Linked DNA regions of Homo sapiens: region 2 is linked to region 1. The links come from fine-mapping of genetic effects on gene expression. A gene starts in region 1. The other region holds a variant in brackets. All regions are shown on one strand. Distances are between the middles of the regions. Region 1 holds the start of TMTC4 (transmembrane O-mannosyltransferase targeting cadherins 4). Region 2 overlaps PCCA (propionyl-CoA carboxylase subunit alpha).

The links. PIP is the estimated chance that this variant, and not a neighbour inherited with it, causes the effect. A credible set is the group of variants that fine-mapping cannot tell apart.
Region 2: its variant is the best candidate, but not a certain one, in a credible set for the expression of TMTC4 in whole blood (INTERVAL, PIP 0.71).

What each region holds. Positions count from the first base shown.
Region 1 is chr13:100,669,548-100,679,336 of GRCh38, forward strand. It overlaps TMTC4 (transmembrane O-mannosyltransferase targeting cadherins 4), which reads right to left and starts at 5,248. Exons shown (of 19, transcript NM_032813.5): 1 at 5,197-5,248; 2 at 813-1,022. The coding sequence starts at 815. RefSeq lists enhancers at 3,624-4,513, 5,839-5,918 and silencers at 4,629-4,708, 4,759-5,118, 5,149-5,648.
Region 2 is chr13:100,498,328-100,508,116 of GRCh38, forward strand. The region is part of intron 21 of PCCA (propionyl-CoA carboxylase subunit alpha); the gene reads left to right. Among named protein-coding and RNA genes, the nearest start is that of PCCA-AS1, 22 kb to the left of the region's middle. RefSeq lists an enhancer at 4,166-4,803. The variant C/A (reference allele first, on the strand shown) is at 5,168.

The DNA.
Region 1 (9,789 bases):
TGAACTTTTCTTTCAAATGGGCATAATGTTTCTCGCCGGGGATGCCTGTGCCTCATCCTTGCCATGTGTTAGTTGTGCGGTCCTGTGCACAACCCCTTTCCTCTCTGAGCCCACCCCCTGCGGCCCTCTGCAAAGCATCTTAACGCCCAGTGGTCAGCGGTGCCTAACAGCTTCCCGCCTTGGAATTCGCCAAAACAAATCTCAACCTACCCCCAAACTCGCACTTTTTTATCTGTCCCCATTCCCACCACATCCTGGACAGGTGCTTTCTTTGGATTTACCAGGATCAGGTTTGGGTAAGACTGCTCGGTTCTGACCTGGGGTACCTCTGGCAACTTACTTGACCTCTCTGGGCCTGTTTCCTCAACACTAAAATGGGGATGGTAAGAGTGCCTACCTTCTAGAGTTGTCATGAGGGTTAAATAGGATTCCCAGCACTGCCTGGCTGTAATGAAGGCTCAGGGGAGGCCGGCTACTATTACTAATACTTTCTTCCAGAAGGCTGAAAGCAGAGGCACAGAATGATTTTCTGTGGGAAATCCCTTTTAGTAGCTGGTTGATTGGTACCGAGGCTCCTGTCTTTACTAAGGGACCTGGACCCTGTTCTTTTCCTGCTGAGATGAAAGAGAATTCCAGCCCCCTGATTGGGAAGGCAGTTTGGATGTATTTGTTTCTGGATCTCTAAGTGGATACCCCAGATTATGGAATCAATAAGAAGCCAGCCAAATAGGCCACCTGAAGTCACAGGCATCTTTCTATAGCCTTCTGTCTGAGTGAAGATGGAGACAGATCCAACAGGCAACGGGACACACCATTCCATGGTGATGCTGTCCCCTTCCAGGGGCCAGAAGGAGGCTCAGATTTACAATCCAGAGATGAAACAGGCCGCAACTCTTCCACTGCTTGTCTCTCGAGCCTCACAGCCTGGCATACGGCATGCTCTCAGCAAGTGCTGGGGGAATACTGCAGCTACTTTTCTTTTCCAGTCAAAGGATAAACCACTTCTCGAATCTAAATTACAACTGCAAACACAACACAGGTTAGCACACAGACCCCAACCTCTATGCTTACATTTCAGCTAAAGAAATTACTCCTGCTACTTAAAAAACAACAAATCAAGGCTGGTTGCAATGGCTCACGCCTGTAATCCCAGCACTTTGGGAGGCCGAGGCCGGTGGATGGCTTGAGCCCAGAGGTTCGAGACCAGCCTGGGCAACAAGGTGAAACCCCGTGTCTACAAAAAAAAATACAAAAATTAGCTGAGTGTGGAGGCGTATGCCTGCAGTCCCAGCTACTCAGGAGACTGAGAGGTGCGAGTATTGCTTGAGCCCAGGAGTTCCAGGCTGCAGTGAGCTGAGATCACACCTCGGCTCTACAGCATGGGCAACAGAGTGAGACCCTGTCTCAAACAACAACAAAGCCCAACAAAGCCAAATACTGAATAGTTAGGAAGATACTATGATTTAACATGGGGAGAAATTTTAGAAAATTAAATGTGAAGGAAAACAAATAATTTATAGCAATTTTAAATGCACAATAGAGTCATGAGCTGACAAAAGGTCATGTAACCGGTTTTGACGTTATCTGTTTTATTGTTTCAATAGTGAATTTATTGGCTCATGCAATATATTTTTGGAGATGGCGTCTTGCTATGTTGCCCAGACTAGCTTCAACTTTTGGGCACAAGTAACCCTCCTGCCTCGGTCTCCCAAGTAGCTGGGACTATAGGAGTGTGCCACTGAGCCTGGATATTATCTGCTTCAGGCTCAAATATTTGAAAATTATTTCACAAACGTTTGTCAAGGTTCAAATGGCCTTCTAAGTAGAATACTAAATCAGGAAATACTTTGTGCTCCTAAATTAGCGACTGTACCTCAGATTGCTTAGAACATAAACGTGTTCTAAGCAATATGTTCTAAGCATAATCATGTTCCAAGCCACAGCCCCAGGATATATAAGGCAGACTGTGGACCACACCATCAACGAGATGCCCTGGTAGGAGGCCAGGTCCAGACTCTTGGGAAGTCAAGTGGATGGCTGACTCAGTGGATCTCAGATGATCTCCTCCTCTGCTCTTGCAGGGACAGCAGGAAACCTGGCCTACCTCCAACGCCCCTGCCCCTACATCATTTCCCAGTTCTGGCTGGCTCTCCCCTCCTTGCTGTGACTCCCCTGCTTCTCTATCTCAGGGGGCTCCTTCTCCTTTCTCCAAGGCCTCCCACTTCTTTGCTGCCACTGAAAATACTCACAAATGCTCTTTTCTTTGAAGGGATTTACTGTTAACGTACATAGTGGAACAGTTTGGAAAATGCCTTTCACTAGCAAACGCAAAAAAAAAAAAAAAAAAGCTACAATTTGTTAGAAAGCCAGGCAAAGTGATCAGTCTAGTCCAGTGGTTGAGACCAAAGGCTCTGGTGACGGACAAACCTGGACTTGCCGGCTGCACGACCTTGAACTGCTTAGTCTTTCTAAGAATCAATTTCCTCACTGGCACAACACAGTACCACCACCACTTTCTTCAGAAGGTGGTGGTAAGGATTAAAGGAGAAAATGTATGCAAACAACTAGTTCTCATTATTGTTAGATTTTGGAGAAATTAGCCGCTGCTTCCCAGTCCCTGACTGCCTGTCTCGGGCGCACCCATGTTGCCAGTGTTTATTCCTGCAGATGGGCTGAGCACTAGGGCCAGCAGTAGCCCATCGGGTGACCTGGTGCGACTGAGAAAGGCGGGCCCTTCTTTTGGGCAGACCCGGGGCACATGGCTTCCTTGGTCAGGTGTCTGGCACAAACTGTACAACCATGCACAGTGACCTTGTTCCCAACTCTCCTTCCTCCAACACTAAACGACTTCTGTTCCTCAATGACCTGAGCCAGGCCTGGCACTCAGTTAAAAGAAGCCCTGTCTGAGCAAGGTGGCAGAGACGGGGGACCACCCTCTCTACATCCCTTCCCCCCTTTTTTTGAACAGGGTTTCACTCTGCCACCCAGGCTGGAGTATAGTGGTATGATCATAGCTCACCACAGCTTCACCTTACTGGGCTCAAGGGACCCTTCCACCTCAGCCTCCCAAGTAGCTGGGACTATAGGCATATGCCACCATGCCTGGCTATTTTAAATATTTTTTTGTAGAGACAGGGTCTCACTATGTTGCCCAGGCTGGAATCAAACTCCTGGCTTCAAGCGATCCTCCTGCCTCAGCCTTCCAAAGCATGGGGATTACAGGTGTGAACCACCGTGCCCGGCCTCCACCATTTTTTACAGTCAGGACATGAAATAGGAAAGGATGCTCTGTTTTCTTCCAGATGGGCCCTAGGTTGAACTTTCTGGTCCCTCTTCTCCACATGATGTCCTGCCTGGGCTCCCTGGCTCCTCTGCCATAGCTGGATCGTTAGTTCACCTTATGAAGCAACAAAAAGAGAGACCCACTGTGGCCTCTGCTACAGGCCAAGCAGAGGGCACAACCCAGGAGGAATGAAGTCAGTGTTCTGCTCGCTACCTGACTCCTGCGACAGAATCAACTGGCCCCTCAACAGGGGCTGAATCTGGAACAAAGCAGACGTCCCTTTATCCTACAATTTCTCAAACTTCTCATATCGAGCCTCTGTTTTCAGGAGGTTAAAACAAATTAATCATCAGTGAGAAGGCCAAAAAGACCCCACACAGGGACCCCAGAAAAACAAATGTCATCCAGCTGTGAACCATGAGGGCCCAATGACAGCTGACACGGCAGCCTGGACTGCGGTAAACAGAATGGCGAGACCAAACCTAAATGTTTCCCCTTGGAAAAATTAGCAGCAGCCACCTACAGAAGAATATTCCCCTCCATGCATCCAGGGGCCTGCTGACCTCTGCCCAGCCTTTCTACCTCATCTGTAACATTCAATCACATAGCCAGCCATCCTATGCACGCTGAGAGGTGACAGCGCCTCTGGGAATCAGATTAGAGAACACAATCGTTTGTGACCCTGCATCCCTGGGCCTGGCAGTTTCCTGACTGATCAGACCCTGGGCCCCTCAAGGCAGGGGCGCGAGCCACCACCACCGCCCTCCTCCGTGCAGTGCTGAATACATGCTACTGAAGGCTAAGGTATCGTCCTGCTGTGACGGCCTTCCCATTTTATAATTCAGTAGCGCACGAGGGCCATGGCTGCCTATAGCAAGAATGTGTGTGGTTTGATATTCACAGTTCCACTGTCCCAGAAAGTTTCCAGTTTGCTAGCTTGTAGCCATTTCCCCTATCTAGGTGCACTGGCCGTGATTTTACCCCACTCCATCTGGGGCGCGCCCGGCGCAGACAGGACTGCAGAGAAAAGGGACAGGGAGGGGACCTAGTCAGTCCCTACTATAACTGTTTCTCAAGACATTCTCCCCATGCATTTATTTGCTCTCCCGGGGAAAGAGCGAAGTGTGGGATGACTCATAGTGGCTAGATCGTTCCTCTAACTCCTCCCTTCTTTTGTGTGTGGTTTAAAAAAAAGAAAAACACACACGCAGCCCATAGCCACAACATCAACAAGACCAGAAGCCCCGCAGAGTTCGCAGGAGGTGGGCAGTGGCTGCGCCACCTGCTCGGCTTCCCCAAACTCCGAGCCCACGCCGGGAAGCGGCGGCTCGGTGGCCCCGGGCGCCCGGGCCGGTGGCCCCGCGCTCGCGCCGCTCCGCTCCGCAGCCGAGCGTGGAGTAGCAGGCGCTCGCGGCGCGGCGGGGGAGCCGCCGCGGAACCCAGGGCAGGCGGCCAAGCGGCCCGGCTGTGTCCAGCCATCGCCTGCGCCGCGGCCAGCTGGCGGCCAGGCGCGGGGCCCCGCGGCCAGATGGCCGCTCCGGGGACGCGCCGCAGGCGCCGGGTGCGCCCGGGCCGAGGGAGCGCCGGCGCGGCTGTGCAGGCAGGGGCTGGGGGCGGCGACCTCTGCCCGGGCGGAGAAGCTCAGGGGCCCGAGCGCGGCGGGCGGGGCGCGCAGCCTCCACGCCGCGCCCTTTGTCCCATGTGCGGCTCACACAGGGGCCCGCGTCCCCCGTGACCCCGGCCCGGGCCGCAGCTCAGGTCCCGGAACCAACTCCTCCAGCAGCGCCGCTCTGGCCCGGGCCGCCGTGCGGGGCTCGGGACACGGCGGCAGCGGGGAACCCGCGCCCGCTCCGCGTCCAACTCCGCTCGCCCCGCGGCGCGCTCGGCCCTGCAGGGGCCGCCCCGCGCGTTACCTGCAAGGAGCCTGAGCCCCGGCCGCATCTCCCTCCCGGGTGCGGAAACTCTGGCGGCTCCAGGCACCCGCCCGGACCTGGCAGGGGGAGGGGCCGCCCGCCGCGCACCCGACCCCCCCCGCGCCGCGCCTCCCGCAGCTCCCCACGCGCGCGGGCGCCCCCCAGCACCAGTCTCGGCCCGCCCCCTCCGCCCGACCATTGGCTGCTGCTCCCGTCACTTTCAGGCCACAGCCAAGTCCCTCCTCAGCTCATTGGCGGACGCGCCGGTGACGTCAGGCCAGGGGGCGCTAGTCGGCGGCGAAGGAGGCGCAGGGACAGACGGACCCGGCGGGAGAGGAGGAAGCCGGGTTGTGGGCGCGGAGCTGAGGCGGAGGCGGGGCCGGGGCGGGAAGGGGCGGCCCCAGCTGGGTCGGGCGAGGCTGGCTGCGGGAAACCGAGTGAGCCCTCGCTTTTCCTCCGGGGTCCGCGCGCGGGACCCTATTTCTGGCCTGTCTCGCGCTTCGCCTGCGCGGTGGTCTCCACGCTGGGACTGCGGCGTCCTCGCAGAACAGCCAGAACTCCACTTCTTCCTGTCCGGGAGGAGTTGTTTAAAACATGCGTATCTCCACCTTCTGCTTCTTAGAACAGAACTGACTGAAGCCGTGTTCTTCCCGCCGAGACCATGCCGCCCCATCGACCCTGCTGCGGCCAGAGCCACCCAGGGCGGGCCCACTCACCGCAGGCTCGGGCCACTTGGTTCCAAACCTCCACTCCCATCCAGGGGCCCGGCACACCCACCACACTCCCACTCTCAGAGGTCTTTGCCGCCTGCTTCAGGAGAAAAGAGAAACTTCCACTTTCCACCGGCAAAACTGCACACCTGCTCCCTCCATCACCGAGCCCCCCCCCCCACCTTCTGTTTTTCCAGTATCGCAGAATCCGATCCGTTGCTCCCTCTGGACTGGAATCCGTATCCTCGGCATTTCATCATTCCAAGATTCTCTACTCCACGTACCCTTGCTGCCACCCTCTTCTACTTTCCATCGCTGAAGTTGGTGAAAGAGGCGCCTGCCCCCAGTTTTGTGGTCTCTCAACTCCACGTGTTCGTTTTCACACTCGGTGAAATTGCCTTTTTAATTGTCGCAAGTAGCATCCACATCACTAAAGTCAAAGGACACTCTCCTTTCTCGTGTTAACTGATCTGAGCAAAATTCCTTCTTTCTCCTTAAAACACGTCTTCCTGTGGCGGGGGTGCTCCACTTTCCTGTCTGTCCCCAGTCTTGGCGTGCTTGTCTACTCTGGGTGACCACCAAATAACAGAGTTTTCAAGGTCTCAGACCTTTCCTCTTACTCCACAATTTTTCCCTGAATGATTTAACCTGCTGTCAACATTTAAATCAATATATCCCAAATTTGCAACTCTAATCTTTGCTCCTCTGAGCTCCAAATCCGTTTATCTAGCTTCCTATTCAGCTACTCCTGGTAACAAGCACCTCAAATGGAACCCATCCAAAACTGAATGCGTCCTTTCCCTGCTTGCTTTCAACTCCCTGTCTCCCTGTGATAGTGAAGACACCACTATCCAGTGTTTCCCAAACTCTGCCTTCACCTCGGCATCTAACAAATCGCCAAGATTCTACTTCCTAAATAACTCTGAAGTCTGTCCACTTCCTACCATTTCCAGTATTACGTATCATAATGTGCTTACTGCACGTGCGTTTTCCCGGCCCACACTCAGTGATGTCTCGTTGGTAGACTGTAATGGGCCATGGTCGAAGTATTTACACCATGGAAATTAGCCAACATTATGAATCATGAATCAGGGATCGATTTGTTTTGCTGATTGTCTCTAGACTTCAGAAAGTGATGGGGAAGATGTTAATAATGTAGATTAAACTTAAAAATGTGTTTAGTGCTGAAACAAGATTGCAGTTTAATGAGTTTATACAAGGGTAAGAAGTAGTTTAACAGATCACATATCAGATTTAAGGACAATAAATTTGTTGGCAAAAAGTGGATCGGTATGTAATTTCACTAGTCACATCATGGTTGAGTTACAAGCATTGGATGGATTCAGATACAAGCCTTTGGCAAAAAAGAAGCAAAGCTTTCTGTGAGAATCAGTCAAGTAGATAGAACTGACAATAAAGAGTGTCTGCCTTTTACTTGTGTATTGTTTATTACACATCCTTTATATCAGAAACATTTATAACACACATATGGTTGTATATATAGGTGGAAATAAAAAGCAGATGAGATTTTAGTCAGTTTTTTTTTTTATACTTTTAAGTTCTAGGGTACATGTGCAGAACGTGCAGGTTTGTTACATAGGTATGTATGTGCCATGTTGGTTTGCTGCACCCATCAAGTTGTCATTTACATTAGGTATTTCTCCTAATGCTATCCCTCCCCCAGCACCCCACCCCCTGACAGGCCCCGGTGTGGGTGCGTGAGGTTCCCCACCCTGTGTCCATGTGTTCTCATTGTTCAAGTCCCACCTATGAGTGAGAACATGTGGTGTTTGGTTTTCTGTCCTTGTGATGCTTTGCTCAGAATGATGGTTTGCAGCTTCATCCATGTCCCTGCAAAGGACATGAACTCATCCTTTTTTATGGCTGCATAGTATTCCATGATGTATATGTGCCACAGTTTATTAATCCAGTCTATCGCTGATGGACATTTGGGTTGGTTCCAAGTCTTTGCTATTTTAAATAGTGCTGCAATAAACATACGTGTGCATGTGCCTTTATAGTAGTGTGAGTTATAATCCTTTGGGTATATACCCAGTAATGGGATCGCTGGGTCAAATGGTATTTCTAGTTCTGGATGCTTAAGGAATAGCCACACTGTCTTCCACAATGGTTGAACTAGTTTACACTCCCACCAACAGTATAAAAGCGTTCCTGTTTCTCCACATCCTCTCCAGCATCTGTTGTTTCCTTAATTTTTAATGATAGCCATTCTAACTGGCATGAGATGGTATCTTATTGTGGTTTTGATTTGCATTTCTCTGATGGCCAGTGATGATGAGCATTTTTTCATGTGTCTGTTGGCTGCATAAATGTCTTCTTTTGAGAAGTGTCTGTTCATATCCTTTGCCCACTTTTGGATGGGGTTGTTTTTTTCTTGTAAATTAAGTTCTTCGAAGATTCTGGATATTAGCCCTTTGCCAGATGGGTAGATTGCAAACATTTTCTCCCATTCTGTAGGTTGCCTGTTCACTCTGATGATAGGTTCTTTTGCTGTGCAGAAACTCTTTAGTTTAATTAGATCCCATTTGTCAATTTTGGCTTTTGTTGCCATTGCTTTTGGTGTTTTAGACATGAAGTCCTTGCCCATGCCTATGTCCTGAATGGTATTGCCTAGGTTTTCTTCCAGGGTTTTTATGGTTTTAGGTCTAACATTTAAGTCTTTAATCCATCTTGAGTTACTTTTTGTATAAGGTGTAAGGAAGGGATCCAGTTTCAGCTTTCTACATATGGCTAGCCAGTTTTCCCAGCACCATTTATTAAATAGGGAATCCTTTCCACATTGCTTGTTTTTGTCAGGTTTATCAAAGAGATGGAGACTTGCTGTGTTGCCCAGGCTGGAGTGCAATGGTGCAATCTCAGCTCACTGCAACCTCCACCTCCCAGGTTCAAGTGATTCTCCTGCCTCAGCCTCCCGAGTAGCTGGGATTACAGGCACCCACCACCATGCCCAGCTAATTTTTGTATTTTTAGTAGAGACGGGGTTTCACCAGGTTGGCCAGGCTGGTCTCGAACTCCTGACCTCAGGTGATCCACCCGCCTCGACGTCGTAAAATGGTGGGATTACAGGTGCGAGCCACCACGCCTGGCCTAGTCAGTTTTATTATTGTCAACTCTCTATAGACAATGCACACCTTATTTCCTGCCTTCAGGGTGGCTTGCCCCCACACGGCCCCTCTTGGTGGGCTCCTGCTTCCCAGTACTCTTAGATTGAAGGCCTCAATCTTTCATGATCTGCAATGCCACAGCATGATCAGGCTGCTTGCCTGCTGCTCCTGAGTCATCTCATGCCTCTCTCTCCTGCATTCCCTAGGCCCCAGCCATGTTGGCCTTCTTGCATCCTCTGGTGTGTTCTGAGCTCATTTGCATCCTGGGCTGTGCAGGTGCACCTGCAGCGCTCCCTCCTATCCTCCTCCATCACACCTGGCTACCTCCAATTTAGAGGTCTCCAACTCTCCAGGGCCGCGGATGGGTACCTGTCTATGGCTTGTTAGGAACCCGGGCAGCACAGCAGGAAGTGAGCCTGCCAAGCGAGCAGTACCATCTGAGCTCCACCTCCTGTCAGATCAGCAACGGCATTAGATTTTCGTAGCAGTGGGAACCCTACTGTGAACTGTGCATGCGAGGGATCTAGGTTGCAAGCTCCTTATGAGAAAGAATCTAACTAATGCCTGATGATCTGAGGTGGAAGTTTCATCCCGAAACCATTGCCCCAACTCCATCCATGGAAAAATTGTCTTCCACGAAACTGGTCCCTGGTGCCAAAAAGGTTGGGGAGCAACCTTTTGCTGCCCTAATTAATTCTTCAGGTCACTACTCAAGTGTCATCTCCTCTGAAAACCCTTCCCTGAATTATCTCCCCAAA
Region 2 (9,789 bases), 170 kb before region 1:
TCATGGAGGTTAGTACTGTCTACTGGAGAAGACATACCAAAAACAAGAGAGAGAGAAAGAGGAAAGCCACAAATCAGTTGGAAACACGCCCGTATTAGTGACTGAAGAGCCTGCAAATGAAAGCTTTACAAATTCATATGGCCAAATAGATTTCCTTGCTCCTTGAGTTAAAATTCACATAACACAATTAACCATTAGCTAAGTTAAAACATACAATTCAGTGCATTTATTAACGTTCACAACGCTGTACAACCATCATCTCTCTCCAGTTCCAAGACGATTCATCACCCCAAAAGGAAACCCCATTTCCATTAAGTGATCACTCCCTATTCCCCCACCTCCCCCAGCAACCCCTAGCCTACTGTTTGCGTGTGACTTCTTCCACTCAGTATAACACTTCTGAGGTTCATCCACACTGGAGCATGTGTCTGGTCTTTGTAGGTTTATTCCACTACCAACCATGTTCTTTATGCTTAAAATAACTCCTCCCTATTGAACTGTTTTGGAGTGATATTTCCTGGGGTGGAGGTAGTTTAATGATTCATCTCTGTCTTGTTAGCATGCTTGTTTATGGTAGAGAGAAATTTTGTATTCTGCCACCATACCTTGTCAAAACCTTTTAACAAGGCATTGATTTGGTTCTCTGGTTCTGAGAACTTGGCAGTGGAAGACAAGACTTCCACCCGCATTGCAAGCAAAATCATTGATGTCAATTCACGTTATTGTGGAAAACCGTGAGTTGTGACAAGTGAAAGCTTTTCACCAAGCCACAAAACTATGGGCGTGTGCAGTCAACACACGGAACACAAGGGGTTTGCTTCCGTGGCTCAGCATAGCACTCTCTCACTAGTTCTAAAATATTCATAGCCTTTGCTGTTCCCAAAAGACGTTTGAAAAATAAGACTTCTCCTTTGTCAGCATCCGCGCTCACATAACTGGTGAAACTAGGAGATAGTTTTGTATCCCGGAAGATAATCATTGTTCCATTCAGGTGTTGGGCAGAGAGAAATGGCTTATCTGCACATCTGCAGGATGTAAGAGATTAGTGAAATATTTGTGATTCTGATGTTGATGACTTTTAATGTTTGACAGAGAAACTTTTGCAATTATTTTCTTCTGGTCCAGGCCTCACTCCTTCTAGCCCACATGGCTCTAGTCAACCTCCTTTAATCAGCAGAGTAATAGGCAAGACTGTAGTAGGATGCCTCAAGACAGACTTTTATGTTGGGACAAGTAGTGTCTTATTAAGGCGGTTCCAGCCTTTCATATCCTGCCTCCTTGGGATAAAGAGTGTTTGTTTACAGAGCTTCTGGGATAGACTGCTGCATGCTGCATCCGTACCTCTGTTGCAGAAGCACATCTGTCCCATTATGTCTAGTGACAAAAATAAGACCTACGCCTCAGTGAACTTTGCATACATCTGAATGTAAGCAAGACAAGTATATTTGACATTTTAAAAAGGTTTTTTCTTTCACAGTTTTCAAAATAACATAGGAGAAGCAAAGGAAAAAATATTTCTTGTGTTTCTAATTCACAGGTTGCTTGAGACTTTTTTTGGAGGTGCTAGCATTTTATTGGCCACAGTTTTGAAGGAAAATACAATGAAATCATGCTTCTGTCGTTTGGGGAAAAGGAATAACAGATTCATTTTTTCTTTTTTTAAAGATGAGAGAGATAGTATTTGGAATCTATCTTTAGACTATTCTACCTCTGAATCTAATTGAAGTAAGAAATTGGGCAAGAATGGAATCTTACTTACCACCCAGGAAAAAAGCTAAACAATTGTGGCTCAGTCCATTTTCCCCTGAGACTGTCTTCAGATTGAGGCGATCAGTGTTAAAATGGATGGAATCACCAGGCTCTCCACATTCTAGTAAGATTGTAGTACGGTTGAAAGTCAAATGAAAGTCCAGCTCTTCAGTGTGTCATTTCCTCTTGCAGACACCAGACCAAGGGCAGTGGTGGTCTGGCGCTTATATTTTGTTATTATTTGTTGAGACCAGAACTCTCCTTAAGGATATATTTATATATGTTTTAATATTAAAGTTTCTTTTCAAGGAATTTATACTAATTAGTTCATGTAATAATAACATGTGCATTCCATTTAAAGTTACCTTGCTAAATTTTCTAAGACTTGTTAGCTTCCCCATAGTTTTTAATAAACCAAAAGATCAAACGAACAGTCCCCAGTTGCCCAAATATTGAGCAGTTAAGGCTGGTTTCAGCTCATCTGAAATCTGTAAACATTTAAAGAGAACCTCTCTCCCAGAAGATAGTGAGCACGGTGGTATTCTCCAGTCTCAGAATATTAAGGTTACTTACAGACTAGAGAGGCCTTCAGTCTATATTAACGAGTTCCTTTCCTAATCTCACCCTTCTAAGAATATATTTGATCCAATTTAGGGACAGCAACATTGAGGCCAGAGAAAAATTAATGGGGTAGTAACTGTAGACACCAAAACACTCCCCAAATCTTGAGACATCAAATAAGCAAGACTGAATTTATGCAAAAGATACTTTAAAGATGTTTCTTTAGCTGGGCGCAGTGGCTCACGCCTGTAATCCCAGCACTTTGGGAGGCCGAGGCGGGTAGATCACAAGGTCACGAGTTTGAGACCAGCCTGGCCAATATGGTGAAACCCCGTTTCTACTAAAAATACAAAAATTAGCCGGGTGTGGTGGTGGGTGCCTGTAGTCCCAGCTACTCGGGAGGCTGAGGCAGGACAATTGCTTGAACCTGGGAGGCGGAGGTTGCAGTGAGCCAAGATCGCCAAGATCATGCCACTGCATTCCAACCTGAGCAACAGAGTGAGACTCTTAAAAAAAAGAAAAAATGTGTCACTCAGAGATTTTTCTACCTAGAACAAGAGTCATACATACTTTTTGAAATTATTTTATCTATGTAAACTTACGAGGTACAAGTGTAAATTTGTGACATGCATAGATTGAATAGAGAGGAAGTCAAGGCTTTTAGATATTCATCACCTGACTAATGTACATGGTACCCATTAAGTAATTTCTCATCATCCACCCTCCTCCCACCCCGTCACCCTTCTGAGTCTCCATTGTCTACTATCAGAAAAGCCTTCTCCAGCAGCGCATTGTCAGCTGAGTCTAGGAGAAGAAAGCCTTCTCATGGACATGAGCTAAATTCCCTGGGAAAGGCCATTCCATAATGGAGAAGGCCTTCTGTTCACCCACAGTGTGGTCCTCAGACCAGCAGCTTCAGCGTCTCCTGGGAACTCACTAGAAATGCAGACCCCAGGCCCAGTGTGGCAGCTCACGCCTGTAATCCCAGCACTTTGGGAGGCCGAGGCGGGTGGCTCACGAGGTCAGGAGTTTGAGGCCAGCCTGGCCAACATAGTGAAACCCCGTCTCTACTAAAAATACAAAAAAATTAGCCGGGCATGGTGGCGCATACCTGTAATCCCAGCTACTTGGGAGGCTGAGGCAGGAAAATCACTTGAACCCGGGTGGCGGAGGTTGGGCTGAGCTGAGATCGTGCCGCTGCACTCCAGCCTGGGCAACAGAGGGACACTCCTTCTCAATAAATAAATAAATAAATAAATAAATAAAATGCACCCAAACCTGAATTGGAAACTCAGGTGGGGGGCCTAGCGGTCTGTGGTTTTACTAGCCCTCCAGGCAAGTTTTGATGCTTTGGTGATTGAGAACTGCTGCTTATGCTGTCTTGGTGGAGAGCACTTCAGCCAGTGCCTCTTCTGCTGATTCTGTATTTATCAAAGAACCACTGACTATAATTTAGTGCTCACACTACAGTTAGGAGGTGTGTGAGTTCCCTTTACAAACCTATTTCTGATTGTAAATTCCTAAGATGTTTTACACATCAGTATCTTGTGAGCTTGATAAAAGTGAATCCATCTCGTTCAGAGTGATGCATTATGAGTGTATAGTGGAAGTCTAGCTTCTAAGCCTGTGAAACAGAGGCCCAGCCCCCTGATCCAGGCAGATTTCACTAAGGTAGAGGCCAGGGTAGATGTCCCTGCTGAACGGGCACCCTCTCATCCCACCTCACCCTGGCTGTGTGTACTGTATATTTTTAACCAAGAGGAGAGCAGAGCGGCACAGAATGGCTGGTACTCAGTATTCCTGGTTTCTGGATTATACAGATGCAAGGGAAATGTCTCCTAGTCTTATTTCATGAGTTACTGTGTAGCATTATTGAATTGCAGTGGTAAGAGGGTTAGGTAGGCCTTTCTCATTTTTGATTAGACAGCTATCATTTACAAATTAGACCACAGGGAATCGACCTTAACTTCTGTGACTAAAGCTTTTGGCAGTTACTTTTGGCATTTCTGGCCCTCTAGACTTGAAAATGACTGAGTGGTTACAATTTACAAAGTTAAGAGAGCTTTCTGTTGATTGGTGTGAATGGTAGGATATGAGACAGACTCTTAGGAGTAAAGGACAGGGATTTAGGGAAAATCCTAGTGGAGTCACTGCAGCCAGGCAGAGTTGTCTGTTACATGCAGATAACAAGTCACGCTGTTGGGGTTAATTAGAAAAAGAGGAAACAAAGTTGAGAAAAGAAGAGGGAGGCAGAGCAGACGGCAGAGGACAGGAATTTTCAGTGCAGCGTTGGGAAAGGTTGTGGAAGCTGAGGCTGACGCAGACCTAGGGCGTTAAAGCTGTATTTACAGCTGGACCTTCTGATTCCTGGGGAGGAGGGGAGGCTGGATCGTGGGTAAGAGAGACTGGCAGGGCCAGTGGAGGATACTCTCCCACTGGAGTTGTCCAGTGGGAGTTGTCTGGAGTTGTCCTGGGCAGAGGCTGCCTGTTGACAGAGGCTCAGCACAGCCATGCTTAAGATAAGCTAGCTAAGCAGGTACGAGGAAAAATAATTTACCTGAAGTTCTTTCTGGCCGGGCGCAGTGGCTCACGCCTGTAATCCCAACACTTTGGGAGGCCGAGGTGGGTGGATCACCTGAGGTCGGGAGTTCAAGACCAGCCTGACCAACATGGAGAAACCCTGTCTCTACTAAAAATACAAAATTAGTTGGGTGTGGTGGCGCGTGCCTGTAATCCCAGCTACTCGGGAGGCTGAGGCAGGAGAATCACTTGAACCCAGGAGGTGGAGGTTGTGGTGAGCCGAGGTTGCGCCATTGCACTCCAGCCTGGGCAACAAGAGCGAAACTCCATCCCCCCC[C/A]AAAAAAGAAATTATAATAAAATAAAGTTTTTTCTGTATTAAACATCTTGTGTTTAAAAGTCTACAGTGAGTCAAGGATGTTGAATGGCCAAAGATCATAAATCTCTCCCTCTTTAAATGAGCTGTGGGCTGGGCACAGTGGCTTATGCCTGTAATCCCAACACTTTGGGAGGCTGAGGGGCATGGATCGCTTGAGCCTAGTAGTTCGAGACCAGCCTGGGCAACATGGCAAAACTCTGTCTTTACAAAAAATTTAAAAAAAAATTAGCCGGGCATGGTGGCATGTGCCTATGGTCTCAGCTACTTGGGAGACTGAGGTGGGAGGATCACATGGGCTGAGGAGGTTGAGGCTGCAGTGAGCTGTGATCACACTACTGCACTCCAGCCTGAGTGACAGAGTGAGATCCTCAATAATAAGCAGTCTTCAGTGTTTCATTTTACCCAGGCTAAATGTATTTGTAGTATACATATATGTTTATATTTTGATAGATTCATGTGAGTAAAAGATATACAATAAAAATTGACATTACCGAAGGGGAGTGGGATTAGATGTGAGAGGGTGGATTAGTAAATTGTTTTACACACCTCTTTACCATTGGACTTGTTACAATAAGCCTATAACTATTTTTAACTCCATAAAATACATTGTTTTATAAGAGCTGTCAAATTTCACTTGCTCAGTCCCCTGATTCTCATTTTCTTATAAAATCTCAGGTTCCTCAAATATGAATTCTTCTGCCATGAGAAATTAGCAACATAGTCTTAAAGTCTGGGGAAAGATTATAGTCAGATCCACATAGATAGGACAACGTTCCAAGTCGGGAGAATGTTCATATGAGAATTGAATAGAAGGCCAAATTTTTAGGCTAAGAATATGATCAGAGGACACTTCCAGTGGAGAGAGTCAGCGTGAAGAGTTGAGGTGCATGGCTGTTGTGCATCTGAGAGCGTGTACGCGGGCGTGAGAGCGATTTAGATCCCTGTGTGTTGAATTCGAGACCCACCCAGACAGCCTCCAGTGTCTTCTCAGTGACTGTGCCCAAGATTTCTGTCCATCTGTGGACATGTTTTAATGACAGCAATTAGTGGTAATGATGGCTATTAAATACTTAATGACATTTCTGTGTTCTGAGGCTTCTTCATACAAGAATTCACTTACTGGCCGGGCACCGTGGCTCACACCTGTAATCCCAGCACTTTGGGAGGCTGAGGTGGGCAGATCAAGAGGTCAAGAGATTGAGATCACCCTGGCTAACATGGTGAAACCCCATCTCTACTAAAAATACAAAATAGCTGGGTGTGGTGGAACGTGCCTGTAGTCCCAACTACTCGGGAGGCTGAGGCAGGAGAATCACTTGAACCTGGGAGGCGGAGGCTGCAGTGAGCCAAGATCATGCCACTGCACTCCAGCCTGGGTGACACAGAGAGAGACTCTGTCTCAAAAAAAAAAGAATTCACTTACTTTCCACAGAAGCAGGCACTGTTATGATCCACAGTTCATAAAGAAGGAATCTGAGACATGGAAAGTCGACCTTTCCCAAGCTTGTAAGTGGAACAGTATTCTGACTCCAGATCCTAAATGGTAAACCACTACTCTCTGCTGCCTCGCAGCCTGGAGATTTTCTGTAAGAGAGGGGCTAAAATAAAAAAGCCCACCTCATATTGATCACATTCTTAGTAATCCTTGAATACGTTTATATTGTGTCATTCATGAATGTCTTTTCCCTCTGGCCAGATTATGGTATTTAGGTCAGGAGCCATTTTTTCTTGTTTATTTTGTATTCTTACATTGCCCAGATATGCTCGATAAATGGTTTTTGAATGAATTAACCAAACTGTTTCTCTAATTCACTATGCTTTTAACTGTCTAAGGAAAAGACAACCGTGGGGTCCCTCGCTGCATGCCTGGGAACCTCTCTGAACACGGAATCAACTTCCTTTCTTTGATTTTAGAGCCAGATGTGATGTTTGAAGAATGTAATCTATTTGCTCTCAAACATGGAGAGCATAGAGCTAGAACTCCAACAATTAGAAGTTAATCTGAGATGTCCTACAATACATGATTTTAAAATAAAATCCACCAGTGTCAGTCTGGTGCAGTGACTCATGCCTGTAATCCCAGCACTCTGGGAACCTGGGGCGGGCGGATCCCTTGAGCCCAGGAGTTCAAGACCAGCCTGGGCAATGTGGCAAAACCCCATCTCTACAAAACATACTCAAACACTAAGCAGGCATGGTGGCGTCTGCCTGTAGTCCCAGGTACTTGGGAGTCTGACGTGGGAGGATCACTTGTGCCCAGGAGGTCGAGGCTGCAGTGAGCCATGCCTGGGTGCCAGAGTGGTACCCTGTTTCTCTGCCCACCCTCCCCCATCCCCCCCAAAAAAATCCACCACTCTTTCATTCTGAACAACCAGAGATGTTTGGAAAGGACACAGGAAATAATACCTGGTGAATAGTTACTCTCGAGCACTTGCTAGGTGCGCTGCAGATCTTCGTAAATTTAATCCTCAAAACAGTTACTCAAGACCTGTATTAGCTTGATTTTAGAGTTGACATCTGTCTGAGAAGGAGGTAACTTGGTCAGAAGGTGCCATCTCGTTGGGATGTCACAGTCGGGCCTGTTGGCTTCAGAGACTTGGGCTTTCATGCTCTGCTGCTGCCAGGACGGGGGCCACATCGCCCTGTCTCCCGATTTCTCCCATGGCTCTCCAGGACTTGGCCACCTTCAGCATCGTGTGTTCTGTACACAGCACAGCATGAGGGTGCCAGCAGTCCTCCTTGGCTCAGCGTCTAGGATGTGTCAGAACTGTAAACCCCAAGATTCTTAGGCAACCCCCCTACCAGCGCTCATTTCTGCTACTTCAGACCAGAAACCTTCGCGGGCGGGGGTGGGGGCGGGGGCGGCGGGGGTTTCAGTTGCTTTCTGCTTCAGTTTTCTTGGCCGACGGTCTACCTCACAGTATCACAGTCATCTTTACTTTCGTTTACTCTGCCTTTCTGTATTTTAGTTTCTGAATTTCTGTCCCATAAAGCCAGCATTTAGGCATTTTGAATTTTGAGTTTCTTCAGTGAATTCATAATAGTAAAAATATTTAAGAAAACCTGTAAAGGCAAGATTGTTGTTGAAGCCCCTCACATTAGAACACTTCCCAGGTGCTCCAACCTGGGGGGGACTGAGGACTTACATGGGAAGTCAGAGCTCCCCATCTTTTTTCCCCAAAGGTCATTCATTCTGACAGCATGACTTCAACTTGATATGAGCAAAGAGCATTTCAGATAGGAGGAGAAAAAGGAAGAGGGTTGGGCACCGTCGTGAAATGGTACACTTCCTCACCGCGGTGCTTATCTACATAATTGTGTTTTTATAACATTTCCTTTACTTTTCTGTAAGCTGATGCTGCCCTAATTATAGATTTTTAAGAGAACACTTCATTGTACCCCAAATTATACAGTGCTTTAAAAAGGTACTTTCTTACCGGTTTACCAAATACCTTATAAATTCGTAATTACATAAAACAATTCGAGATACAGAATAGAAACAGCCTGTACTGTTAACAGGTGTTGGTATTGTTATATAATTGAGTACATGGCTTTCAAAGATCTATAATATTTTTCTTGAGTAAAAAGAAAAAAATGACTCATTATAGTCGTAATGTGTCACAGAGACTCCTGATCAAACAGAATGCACATGTTCTATTTTGTGCATTCTGTACAGTTCATTGTAAATGGACTTGCCTTTGTGGAAGTGAAAGTGCCACTTATTCCAGCAAATTGCCTTTGTGGCATATGCACCTACTTGTTAGACAGCTTGGGGGCACTTGGGCCAGGCAGAGGCTGGGCCCCCTTTATCATGGGCACACCTGCACACATGGCACTATGGCGCCACACTCCAGGTAGGCTGCTGTCATTAACAGACTTGCTCCTTGGGAAACCCACTGAGGACTTCTCAGTGCCCTCCTGCCCATCAGAGACCACCTCGGAATTCTTAGAAGACTAGGAATGGGGCAGCTTCCTAGACGCTAGCTCTTTTCCCGCCACATCAGTTTTAGGCCTCTCTTATGATACAAGTGATTCAGATTACAAGGTAACCTCAGTGCAACACAAGGGAAGAAATAAATCCTCTCTGTTATTGAGTGCTGGGTCTAGTGTTTAATTTTCTTTCTTTTCTTTTCTTTTTCTTGAGACAGAGTCTCGCACTGTGGCCTGGGCTGGAGTGCAGTGGCGCGATCTCGGCTCCCTGCAACCTCCACCTCCCAGGTTCAAGCGATTCTTCTGCCTCAGCCTCCCGAGCAGCTAGGATTACAAGCGCCCACCACCACGCCTGGCTAATTTTTTGGATTTTTAGTAGAGACGGGGTTTCACTATGTAGGCCAGGCTGTTCTTGAACTCCTGACCTCATGATCCTCCAGCCTTGGCCTCCCAAAGTGCTGGGATTATAGGTGTGAGCCACCGCACCCAGCCTAGTGTTTAATTTTCAATTTAATTTTTGGCACTATTTTTTTTTAAGTTGCTCATCTTAGGACAGTATAACTGGAATGAGCCTTGTGTTTCCAGTTACAAAAACAAGACAGAACAAAGGATGAGGCTAGATTTTTGTATTATTGACAACCCCATATTCTTCC